3 separate regions of the Homo sapiens genome follow, and regions 2 and 3 are each linked to region 1. Evidence: fine-mapped expression QTL. A gene starts in region 1. Each other region holds a variant in brackets. All regions are shown on one strand. Distances are from middle to middle. Region 1 holds the start of TSPYL4 (TSPY like 4). Region 2 has its middle 44 kb from the start of TSPYL1. Region 3 overlaps NT5DC1 (5'-nucleotidase domain containing 1).

Region 1 (4,244 bases):
TCAGTTTTGTCTTGCAGTGGTAATACCCAAATAGCTTACCATAAGTACATGGGTATCAGGACACAGCCAGCATAAAGTATGAAGCCCAATCAGTTATTTGTGAAAATGTATCAAGATTCTTTGTGGTACAGAACCACTTAAATTGGGAGAAGAGCATGGTCACAGATAGGGTCCAAGCCATGCAAAGAAAGGCAGTATGGTACACTATATCTATAGTATCATACGCTTGGCATAGAAGCCGTAGAAGGCCATGCACTTGAAACATGTTAACACAATGCAGAAAAGCATGAAGGCCCAGAGGAAGAATGGCACAGGCAGGTAAGCCAACAATCTTGCAACCGATTACTGAAGATTTAGAACCAAAGGAAAAGATAATCCACAGTATGAAGAGAAAGCAGATGGAAGACTGCATGCTGTTGGCCAAGCATAGGTCCAAGAGGAGGTGGTAAGGAAACTTGTGCAGAAGCTTCTCACAGGACAGAGATTAGCCAGACTGGAACCTGAAGGATCTGGCGCTCTCCACTGGCTGCCTTGGTGGGCCTCGAATTCCTCTACGGGGCCCTTCACCCATCAGGTAGTATTGTAGGGGATTGGGCCACAGTTCTCCTTTGATAATCTCTGCAATTCTGTCGAATTCTAGAAGGCTGTGGTCTGAAAACCAGTTGAAGAAACTAGGGATAGTGTTCCCTTCCCGGTTTCTGTGGATATGAGCCTGGGGGTCTTGGCCTCGGTGCCAGCGGATTGGAGTGGAAAGAGACACCACCCGGCCAGAGGATCTGCGTTCATATTCCTTGACAAGCCCCTCATTTCGGAAGTAGGGGTTGCCCTGAAAGATGAACTTGAATTTGCAGCCTGCTCTGGGGTGTTTAAGCTCCTCCACCTCCAAATTGATCATGTACCTCAGCATGTCTTCATCTTGGCCACTGATCATAGGTGACAGCTGGGGGTGGTTTCGAAAGGCAGTAACCCAGAAACCTGGGATATTCTGGATAATGAAACTTCTGCGCTGCATGTGGAGCCTTCGCATGCGGCCAAACTTGCGCTCAAGCTGAAGGAAGGCCCTGTCAGCCTGGGCATTTACGTTTGACAACTCTTGATCGATGGCCTCCAGTGAGTCCATGCAGTTATTGATCTTCGGGGCCCTGGGCCGTGTCTCCTCTTTCACCCCTCCTGCCACCTTTTTTTCCTTCTGCACTACCTTCTTTTCCTCCATCGCCGCCCCTGCTTCTCCCTCCTTTTCCACTGCTGCCGAGATGGCGCGTTTTTTAGTCGTCACTTCCTTGGCCTTCTTCCCCGGTATCATCTGAGACCCCAAGCCCCCTGCGCCACAGGCTTCTAGAGCCTTCTGCCCAGCAGGGCCACGGGGCTCTCCAAGCTGACAGCCATTTTTCTGGCTGCTGTCAGCAGCCTCGGCGGCAGAGGCTGCTTCCAGACCTTTCGTAGAAGGTGGAGCATCCTCCTGCCCGGCTTTGGTCGCTGCACCGCCGCGACTCCCGGCAACTGGGACGCGGAGCGCGGGGCCACAGTCGACAGGATCCTGGGATGCACCCCCCTCCGCAACGGTCTCCAGGCTGCCCCCACCTGTGTTCGCCATCACCTGTGTCGCCTCGGTTTCTTCACGGAGCCCTTGGCACTGGTCTCGGTCCGGATCTCCTGAGGCATGGTCGGGAGCAGCCAGGCCGCCGGTTTGGGCGAGAGGGAGCTTGTTGCCCCCATCCAGGCCGCTCATTTTGGAAGAAGTCAGACTAGTGGGAGAGGGAGAGTTCCTTGTCCTCCGCAGCGGCCGAGCTCTGCCCGAAACGTCTAGCACCACCCCTCCTTTACTCTCGGCGGTGCTACCATGGCAACTGGTGATGTCAGGGCGGTAGCGTCGTAACATCGCGCGAGAACTCTCTGCGCGGTTGACTACGCTTATCAATCCATCGTATTCCTTTGTCTTCTTGTCACAAAAAGAATTTCGTCAGTCTGGAAGGGGAGTTTTACTTACGTAAATGGATGTAGACCAGACTCAAGCATGTAAGAACTGTGTTAATGTGGATTTCTAAGCCTCTGAATGAATTTCTAAGGCACCTAACCTATTGTTTCTGAAAATATTTACTTTAAGGTGAGTTACTGTCTATTCAAGTCAGTTCATAGGGCTTCTCCTGAGTAGGAAAGTGGATTCACGAACTCACAGGCCTTCCTTCTTTTAAGGTGTGGATTCATGGCTATTACCAAAGAATTTAAATGAGCAGAGTTTGATTTTAAAGAGAAGTGTTGCTGTGTTGTTATTTTTAAAATTAAGGAGCAGCTGAAAGGCAAACTTCTCTCATCCTAACAAGACATAATAAAGGAATATTTCAATTTGTCTTACAGATTTTAAAGTTTATATAATTTGGCCAACATCTACAAAACAAGTGGACAATATTTCCTCTTCACTTTTAACAAAGAGTAGCAAAATGTTTTTCCTTACGTAGAGGTGACTGGCACACGAGCACAAATTTAGGCTTTTAAGCATTACTGAAAGAAATATCTCAGGGGATTTTAATTTCTAAACTGATGCATATGTTCTTTTCCTCAGGTTACAATCTTAATCTAAAAGTGGTTCCTGCTTCATAATGCCTGTGGACATGAAGCTAACAAATCTTTTCAAAATGTGTTCATGTGGTAATTCACTGCAGCACAGGAGCAATAATCAGCTATGTGCAGGCATCTATGCTACTGTCTCTTAAAATACTTTAAAAGTAAGGTTAGTTATTGTCTATTCGAGTCAGTTAGCTCTTACAATTCATTTGATAGTGATTATCAGTACAATATATTAGTTTGTTGGAGTGTGAGAATAATGGTGTTAATCCTTAGAAAAATGCAAGACCAAAGGGAAATTTAAATTTTGCATATTTATGTTTAATGTCAAATTTATATTCAAATAAACGGTTATGATTATAACTCTTTGTAAAAGAAACTCCATTTTAAGCCCCCCAGATTATGATCACTTTCAAATACAGGCTCAGAAGTACAGATTTAGAGAAAAAGGATTCCTCTTAGAGGAATACATCATATATACTGAGACTTCTAGCGAGGGAAGGAGTGTAGTTCTGGTTCAACTAAGATAAAGTACTGATGAAAGGTCACTGGCAGACAATACGGAGAAACAGCCTGCCTTGCAGGATTTTTTGTATGCCTAGTCAGCCTACCCAAGGACAATGTGTCCAGAATGACCTCTTTACTGCCTGCCAGCTAATCAGTTATCCCATAAGAAATATGCAAACAAGATTCACACAGCAGAGAGCAATTATTTTTCTCTCCCTCTTTCCTCTTTGTCTTAATAAACGCTCTTTTTTTATTTGTGGGGTGAAATCAATCTATTGAGGTATCGTCTTTGTAAACACATAAACAGCGTGCTATAATTGACTTTGTGACTTTGAATTATTGACACTGCTCTGTTTCTTTTCCAAAGAACCTTTGCACTGTTGAAAGAGTAACTTTTCCATTATAACCTGAGTCAAGATGAAGAGAAGCAGGGAATACTGAATGAAAGTTACTTTTCCATGCAGCAGGAAAAAACAAGTTTGCTACTATACAAATTTATAGAAAAGTATAAAATTACATGTGAACTTCTTTTTCTTTTTGTGTGTGCCAAAGTTTTTTAAAGATTTATATCTCTACTACTCAAAGCATTCCCATCTCTAGCCTGTATTAGTTCTGTCACCTGAATCATTTTTCACTCATAACCACCTGGCCATTCTTTAACACTCAGTTCATGTAGATTGTACTAGGCAGTTTAAATACATTAGATTTTATAAACAAAGACCCAGTGAGCACAGAGCAGTTAACATGCCCATGGTCACATATGTATTAATTGGCAGATTGCCTCCTCCCACCTTATTACTTTACCTCCTTCCTTAATTACTTGCCATTTTGACAGTCTTCTGATTTCTGTATAGCCCTTATGACTTTTACTATCCAACTTAGTACAGTTACGTTTCACTGAATGACAGGGATTTTGTCATTATGGAAACATCATACAGTACATCTATCAAACCTAGCTGCAATAGCCTACTATACACCTAAGCTAAATAGTATATCATATTGCTCCTAGGCTACAAACCTGAACAGCATGTTGCTGTACTGAATACTGTAGGCACTTGTAACATAATGGTAAGCATTTTTGTATCTAAACATAAGAATGATACAGTAAAAATAGAGTATTACAATTGTATGGTCCCACACTTGTATATGCAGTTCATCTTTGACCAAAATGTTAT
Region 2 (4,244 bases), 69 kb after region 1:
ATTTTTCATTTTTTTTTTTTTTTGGTAGGGATGGGGGTCTTGCTATCTTGGCCAGGCTGTTCTAAAACTCCTGGCCTCATGCAGTCCTCTTGCCTCAGCCTCCCAAAGCACCGAGATTTGACAAGCATGAGCTACTGCACCCAGCCCACAAAAACTCTTCTTATATTTACAGTTCCTGGCCAGGCACAGTGGCTCATGCCTGTAATCCCAGCACTTTGGGAGGCCGAGCAGGTGGATCACGAGTTCAGGCATTGGAGACCAGCCCAGCAAACATAGTGAAACCCCGTCTCTACTAAAAATAGAAAAAATTAGCCGGCGCCTGTAATTCCAGCTACTCGGGAGGCTGAGGCAGGAGAATCGATTGAACCCGGGAGGTGGAAGTTGCAGTGAGCCGAGATCGCGCCACCGCACTCCAGCCCGGGTGGACAGTGTGAGACTCCATCTCAAAATAAATAAACAAACAAATATTTACAGTTCTTTAAGTAGTGTCTGCCTTCTCCCCTATACTGTGTCATAAGGGCAGGAACTTTGTCTTTTTTGTTCACTACTGTACGTCTAGTACCTGACAATCAACATGCCGCAATTTTTTCACATGATAGTGTAGCAGGACGAGCCACAGACAAAACTCCTCAGACACCGAGTTAAAGAAGGAAGGGGTTTGTTCGGCCGGGGGCATCAGCAAGACTCCTGTCTCAAGAGCCGAGCTCCCCAAGTGAGCAATTCCTGTCCCTTTTAAAGGCTCACAACTCTAAGGGGGTGCGTGTGAGAGGGACGTGATTGATTGAGCAAGCAGGGGGTACGTGACTGGGAGCTACATGTACTGGTAATTAGATCAGAACAAAACAGGATAGGGATTTTCACAGTGCATTTCTATACAATGTCTGTAATCTATAGATAACATAACCGATTAGGTCGGGGTCGATCTTTAACTACCAGGCCCAGGGTGTGGCGCCGGGCTGTCTGCTTGTGGATTTCATTTCTGCCTTTTAGTTTTTACTTTTTCTTTCTTTGGAGGCAGAAATTGGGCATAAGACAATATGAGGGGTGGTCTCCTCCCTTAATAGAATAAGTGGAATATGATGTTAAATAAAAGAGATGAAGACCTGGATGTTCCCAAAGGTCTGTAGGCCTCAGCCAGCCTCCCAGAGGGAGCAGAGCCTCTGCCACTGAGTCTTTAGACAAACCTTTCCTTCCCCACCATCCCCAAAATTACTTCTGCCCCCCCACCCCAATTAAATAAGATTTACCTTTGGGACCTGTTGAATAAACCTGGAGTGATTTTTTAGGTTTCTGATTGCCTTCTTCCTAAAATATATCATTTCGTTGATGCTTAAAGTAAATAAAGAAAAAGTATTTCATTCCTCAACCAGTGATAAGATTTAAATGCAAACCTGTGATTGAAGCTGAGATTTCAATTTGTTGAAATGTAATCAGCCCATGTGCATGTGTAAATGACTCTCAACCAAGATTTTCTGTTTAAATATGGAGAGAAGAGAGAGAAGTGGCAGGGTAGAAGAGACTGCAGAATAATGTTTCAGAAGAGTAACTTCCCAGATTTGACACTGCACTCCATGTAGAGCAAGTTGGAGTGTTAGTGTAGAGAGCATTTTTTTGCTTCCTGGCTGTGGGAAGTCCTCCCCTAACCACCTGCAGAAAATAATTTATCCATGCAGGGAGCATAAGGGTCTTCCAGAAAAGAGAGCTGATAGTGGTTCACAGTATTTTGCGCTTTACTGGTCTGTGATTATGGAATCCCAGATTTGCAACAATTGAAGTCTGGTTTTGTTAATGTTATTCTTTAAGATGTCAGTGGAAACATTTCTCTCCCAGTTCCCTTGTAAAGTGAAAATTACACATCAGTTGTAAGCCAGCTTTTAAACAGATTTCTTTAAAATATGTATTTTTTTCAGTTGTAGCAATGTCATGTCATTTACCTTGTAAGAAATCCTATACTGAGAAATATAAGAGCTGAACATCTTTCACTGTGTTTCTTCACGACTGTACTCAATCTTATTAGATTCTTCTACTGTTAAGCTAATAATTAATTTGGATTTCTATTTTTTTATTGAGTAGTGAGATTCACATTTGACTTGCCAGAAAAATAAAAAACTTTTCA[G/A]TGGCAGCAAGGCAGATAATAATTACTTCTTGGACATTCGTTTAGCAGCCAGGTGCTATAGTGTGCTTTGTCTACAAATGTGCTTTTAAATGTTCTTATCGAAAAGTGTGTCCAGGAAAAACCTTTATATTATTATGATCTATTTTACTCATTTTAGTTCTAAGGGTAATGGAATTTCATGTCATTTGATTTGTAATGAACAACACAAAGATTTTTAAATATTCTGAAGAAAGTTTTGAAAATTTAAATCTAACAGAAAAGTAAGAAATATGTTTAATAGCATTTCAGGTATAAAATATACACCAAGAGAAAAAATTAAGTTGGCAATAAGTTATAGTTAATTTTGTATATGGTTTCTATAAGGGGAAAACAGGTCATTAGCCTGATCATGTGCATCTTTCCTGATACCTTTCTTCTCATTCCCTCTTCCATTATCTTCCCTCCACTTCTACCATCCTTCTTCAGCCAGGATATATTTTTAATGGCTGATTTATCCAACTCTTCTCTTTTTTTCTGGGCCCCCTAGTCAAACCTGCCCCACATAGTCAAACCACAACTCATTAACAACCCTCAGAGGCAAGGTAAGAGGACAAAAGAGAAAAGGAAGTGCCCACCTGTGAGATCTGAATTCAGCAGTTAATAGGTCCCCCTCTTACCCCTCACCCCAGGCTCCAAAGGGGCTTTCTTCGTATTAACATGTGGGAAACACAAGTCCCAAAGCTATGTCTGCTAGTAGGCTTTCCTGCTAATTTCACCATCATTTTATTAGACTTCACTTATATCTTACTTCATCAGCTTGCCATTGGCAGGTGGGCAGATTTTCCTCAGTTTTTGGCCTAACTCCAAGATATATACAACAGCAGGCAAGATCCAGGAAAGCAAAGGTATTTTGACTATTTTTCCCAGTTTGCTTTAATAGCTTAGGACAAGTAACCTGCTGGAAGGCAGCAGTTTAGATTATTGACAAGAATATGAGTTTGGAAGTCAAATAGTCACAGGTGAAATCCCAACTCCACCCCCTTGTAGCTGTTTGAATTGACTCCATGAGTTTTAGATCTTCATCAACACAAAGGACAGGGAAAGCACAATTGCTTTAGAATAGGATAGTTGCAGCGTACGTAGCTTTGGAACCTACATGAGATTCTGAGGGTTGTGTGCAGGGGTATATGTAAAATACAAAGAGAGCTGGCTTTGTTAAACAGCAATGGTAGAACAACCCAGGTGACCCGGAAGTTCATTATCCCCTCTCATTGGTAGCTCGAGGAGCCTGAGTTAGCTTAAGGAAAGAACAGGCTTCCATTTCAACTACTTCTTTCCATTGCATTGATGTTCACTGCACTTCTCTGTTCCTTATAATGAGTAGAATATTATAGGGGGAGAGTTTCACCCTTTTGGGGATGCATGCAGTCCATTTCTGCCTGTGTGCACTCTCCTATGTCTGTGCTTTTAAGTTTTCTCTGAGTTTATCCCATTTTATATTTGTACTATGAGGCACTGATAAGGAGTGCTAATGACTCCTTTGCATAACAGTTGGAGATTAGCTAGGGACACATACCACCCACTCTGGGGTTAGGTGTGTTTTGGGAAGCAGCAGAGTTTAACTGGTTCACCCAGGGTGGAAACAATCCTCCTTGGAAAGGCTGGAACCAGGTGGCTGCTAACCCCGAATCATGTCTGGTGGCATCATAGGAGTCCTTCAGACACCAAAGCCTCCAAACCCACAAGTCACTGGGAAAAGGTGGATTTTCTGCAAAAGAAAAACCCTGGCGAGTGAGACTCATGGTTGCCTAAATTTTCTAAGTCCCAAGACCTCACTTTCAGATGTTTCTTCCCCATGTCTGGGGTGAAACCATGCATGATTTTTGAAAAATGTCCACCACAAGTTGTGATGTGCACTCCAGGATGAGTACTGCATGATACATAATCTCCAAAGTTCCATCAGCTCTTTAGTTCTTGAGGTAGGTATCATCAGAAACATATGAGCTCCTTCCCTTTTGGATTAGAGGAATTGTACAAAATGATTTGTTTTTATCTTCTATCTTGCCTTCATCCCCAGATTTCTTGCAACTTTCATCATTTTTTTAATAAAACCTAATGTCCTGTGTTGCAACTGGAGTAGTAGGTAGGT
Region 3 (4,244 bases), 55 kb before region 1:
TCTCTGCTAGGTCTCTGATTATCATCTTGTCTGATTTAAAATGCTAAGCAGAATTGAATCATTGGAAGATACTGGGAAGAATCTTCCCGGTCAAGAATCAACATTCTTGACCTTCACCACCTTTTACCTCTGCCACCCAAGTTTTAAGAACAAACAGCCAGGTACAGCGGTTAATAACAATAATTTTAGTTGCTGTAGTGCAGATAGAAGACAGTATAATACAGTAATGAAGGCACCCAAATGTCGGAGTTAGACTGTTAGAGATTCAAATACCATCTCTACTTTTTGATTGTTTAGCATTGGCCAATTGACACAATTACTTTTAAGTTCCACATGTGAAAATAAACTTGATAATGGTATTTATCTCATAGGATGTTATGCAGATTCAGTGAGATAATGTATAAAGAACTTAGCACAAGGACTGATGGATTGAAAGCGCTAGGTAAACATTTCTTCTTTATGTTTGCTACCATTGAGAAGCGTTTACATGTACCAGACATGCCAGTGCATTGACTACTTTATATACACATGTCTACTTCATTAGGAGCTCCACAAATAGCTTCACCCCAGATAGGGCTGCCACCAAAGCTCTCTGAATTTTGTCATAGAGGGCAGTGGCAATTTATGGCCCCAGGGCACCTAGCTTTGCTCAGAAAATGTCCTTCATCAGCTTGCTAGTGCCAAGAGTGAGCAAGCTTTTTCTAAATCTTCCAAGAGAGATCCTGGTAAATAAAAGGGTTATTTCTCCTGTCAAAGTGCTGGGTGGTCACCACATCAACAAATAGGGATTCAGTCACTCACTTCCTCTCCAAATTGAGGTCACTGAGTAGTGAACAACAGTTTCTGGGTAACAGCCATCTACTTGGTAAGGTTCACCCATTCATTCAAAGCCACGTAACTATTCCACACAGCTTGATCCTGAAACAGAAAACAGTCAATGTGGCCAGTAAATGATGGCTTATATGGAGATAGGCCTTTCCTTTTCAGGACCATTATATGTAACTGTGCTCATGCCCTGCTTGACTCAAGCAGCTTGTTTAAAGAGCATGCCTTCTTCTATTCGTCCCATACATAAGAACTACAGGTGGCTGGGTATAGTGACTCATGCTTATAATACCAGCAGTTTGGGAGGCTGAGGCAGAAGAATCACTTGAGGCCAGGAGTTCAAGACTAGCCTGGACAGCATAATGAGACCTCATCCCTAGAAAAAAAATTTAAAAATAGCCAGATCTGGTGGTGTGCACCTGCAGTCCTACCTGCTTGGGAGGCTGAGGCAGGATTGCTTGAGCCCAGGAGTTCAAAGTTACCTATGAGCTACGATCACACCACTGCACTCCAGCCTGGGCAACAGGGGAAGATCCTGTCTCTAAACAATATTTTTTTAAAAAAAGGACTACAGGAGTCTCTTATCTGATTTGAGAGCCATGTTTCTTAACCAAAGTGGGGACTTTTTCTTCTGATAGGCTAACTCATGAGGTCACAGAATGAGACAGAGTCTTCCATGGTGATCCCTCATAGCCACCAATAGAAAACTAATTCAGTTAGAATATAAACAGTGTAAATTAGATGAAGAATCTTCTAGTATTTATTCCTTTAGCTACCTTAGCACTATTGTCATCTTGAACTGGGTAATTCTTTGTTGGAGGAGCTGTTCTGTGCATTATATAATGTTTAGCAAGATCACTGGCCTCTATCCACTAGATGGTAGTAGCAGCACCCTCCACCCACCAGAAATTGCCAAATGTCCCTGGGGGGTGAGGGGAGCTAAATCACCCTCAGTCAAAAGCCGTAATGTATAAAAATATCTTTCCATGAAAGACAGACTCTCCAGTTGTTTCTTCTAGATAGACAAGAGAGTTTGTCAGTTACGCCTATTAAATTTTACCTTCTGAAAGGACTATCTTCTGGAAGTGCCTTTTTCCTTTTCTTATAGGTTGTTAATCTGGTCTTTGATGCTGTGTTCTCATCCAGAAGACATTAGATAGTCAAAGGACAGGGAACTACCATTAGAAGACTGAGTTTTATTCCAACACTGCTATTATTAGCCTTGGCACTGAGCAAATCCTTTAACTACTCTAAGCCTTAGTTTACCTATCTGTCATCAATGTTGTGGAAAGAGAAATATGTATGTACAAAAGCATCTTTAAAAAACAAAGAAGTCACCTAGCACTCAGATCTTAGTTTCTAACGCCATTCTCCAGTATTAGAAGCCAGGGCTCCTTGGAGAAATCTCTGACTTTAGGCCTGGGGCAGGAAATATACAAGATGACCTAGAGCATCTTGTAGTGCCAGAAGTAAATAAATGCTTTTTAAAAATTACAATGATGGAGGTGTGTAAAAGGGACACAGGAATTAAAGGATAGAGCTCCCAATGGCTAATGCTGGAACAATTTGAGAACAAAATAAATAAAGTAGTATGGAATTATAACCCAGAGTATAAAATAACCATCAATGAGTCTGGTATAAATAAGTGATTAACAAGTAAATAAATGGGGAGAAGAGACTAATCTACCACACAAAATATTTCCAAAATAGTTTATGCACACATTTTACCTTCAAGAAGGTAGAGCATGAATTTTTACTCCTTAAGGGTAGCCTGTGCATTGTACTTCCTTACAAAGAGTACAGTATGGAAAGTG[G/T]GGGGGGAAGAGTAACTTTGCAGTGGGGCAACCTGACAAATACTGTCCTGGCCAAATCATCCAGGTCAACATCAACAGTGACCCTTAATAGTATATACCCTTAATATAACATGAGAGTGGCACTTTATCTCCATGGTCTTCCACCCAATAACACATAACCCAGTCTAATGAAAAAGTCAGACAAATCCCAATTGAAGGACATTCTACAAAATATCTAACTAGTACTCCATAAAACTGTCAAAGTTACCAAAAACAGGGGAGGTCTGAAACTATGTCACGGTCAAGAGTAACCTAAGGAGACATAACCAGTAAACGTAATATGGTATCCTGGATGGGATCCTGGCACAGAAAAGAGACATTAGGTAAAAATTAAGGAAATCTAAATGAAGTGAGGACTTTAGTTAATAATAATGTATTGGTATTGCTTCACTAATTGTGACAAATGTACCATAATATTGAAAGATATTGATAGGGAAATTGAGTGTGAGGTGTATGGGAACTCTGGACTATCTTTGTAATTTTTCTGTCCATCTAAAACTACTAAAATTAAAATTTTATTTTAAAAAGCATAGCTAAATAAAGGTAAGACACTATTATAAGTAATGGTTATTTTATCCAGAAGGATATTATCGAGCTCTGGTATATAATTCCCTTAGTTTTAAAAGTCTATTCATGAAGTCATTCCTCAACTTCTCTCTCTGGGTGATATTTAATGTCCTTATGGATCGTACTTCATCTCTTCTCCCACTAGCTTGGAGCAGTTTCAGGTTCCCAGCTAAAGAAACTGAAGGATATCACATAACAGTTCTTCACCTTCTTGGCATAAATCCTGTGGCAGACCATGTTTACTTTTTCTTCTGAGGAAATCCACATATGCTCCCTTCTTCTTCCCCCACCCACTCAGAAATACAGCTGCCTTACAACTTACCAGTGCTTTTTTCTAACCAAGGTCTGAAAGGTTCTCTGTTTAGTTTCTTTGTTCTCAAGAGGAATGGAAAAAAGCGGGAAGGTACTATGGTAGCACCCCACAGCACCAACTTGCCCAGTAGGAGTGAAGTACTAACTTGCCCAATAGGAGTGAAGTACCAACTTGCCCAAGAGGTACTGCACCTAGATGTGTGCAGAATAAGAAGGTGAGATAAGGGGATCCTTCAGAATGAGTCACCACATGTAAAATCTTGGAGGGACAATACATGAGCAGATAAAAAAGTTTAATATAGGTAACTACAATTAGTTACCTCTATGATACTCTTGCCTTTTTGGCTGTAGCCATTATAACTAACTGTGTAATTGGAAGTCATTCCCACCACCTTTATTTCAGTGAACAGTATTGTTTATTCATTCTGGGCATATTGCACTGTATAAAGGTATGTATTTGAACATAGTTTGTTACAGAAATTGAATTTAGAATCACTCCAGTATATAGAGTAGTGTTCTGTAATCCGTTGGTGGAGAAGAATTGACCAATCAAATTTCCCTAATGAGACCAGTGACTTATGGGACTGCCTCGGTAATGCTTTTCAGTTCTGAGAACTTCAGTGAGGTGAGCATTTGCCAGAGTCAGGTTTACTGATGATATTAAAAGTCTTGGTTAATATAAAGATA

Evidence for each region. PIP is the estimated chance that this variant, and not a neighbour inherited with it, causes the effect. A credible set is the group of variants that fine-mapping cannot tell apart.
Region 2: its variant is the best candidate, but not a certain one, in a credible set for the expression of TSPYL4 in whole blood (TOPMed, PIP 0.77).
Region 3: its variant is the best candidate, but not a certain one, in a credible set for the expression of TSPYL4 in lung (GTEx, PIP 0.80).

Annotation. Positions count from the first base shown.
Region 1 is chr6:116,252,280-116,256,523 of GRCh38, forward strand. It overlaps TSPYL4 (TSPY like 4), which reads right to left and starts at 1,796. Exons shown (of 1, transcript NM_021648.5): 1 at 1-1,796. The coding sequence starts at 1,729. The coding sequence ends at 485. It also overlaps a transcript of DSE not described here. RefSeq lists enhancers at 1,368-1,527, 1,938-2,167.
Region 2 is chr6:116,321,330-116,325,573 of GRCh38, forward strand. It overlaps a transcript of DSE not described here. Among named protein-coding and RNA genes, the nearest start is that of TSPYL1, 44 kb to the left of the region's middle. RefSeq lists enhancers at 2,443-3,010, 4,033-4,244. The variant G/A (reference allele first, on the strand shown) is at 2,117.
Region 3 is chr6:116,197,362-116,201,605 of GRCh38, forward strand. The region is part of intron 6 of NT5DC1 (5'-nucleotidase domain containing 1); the gene reads left to right. It also overlaps a transcript of COL10A1 not described here. Among named protein-coding and RNA genes, the nearest start is that of TSPYL4, 55 kb to the right of the region's middle. The variant G/T (reference allele first, on the strand shown) is at 2,640.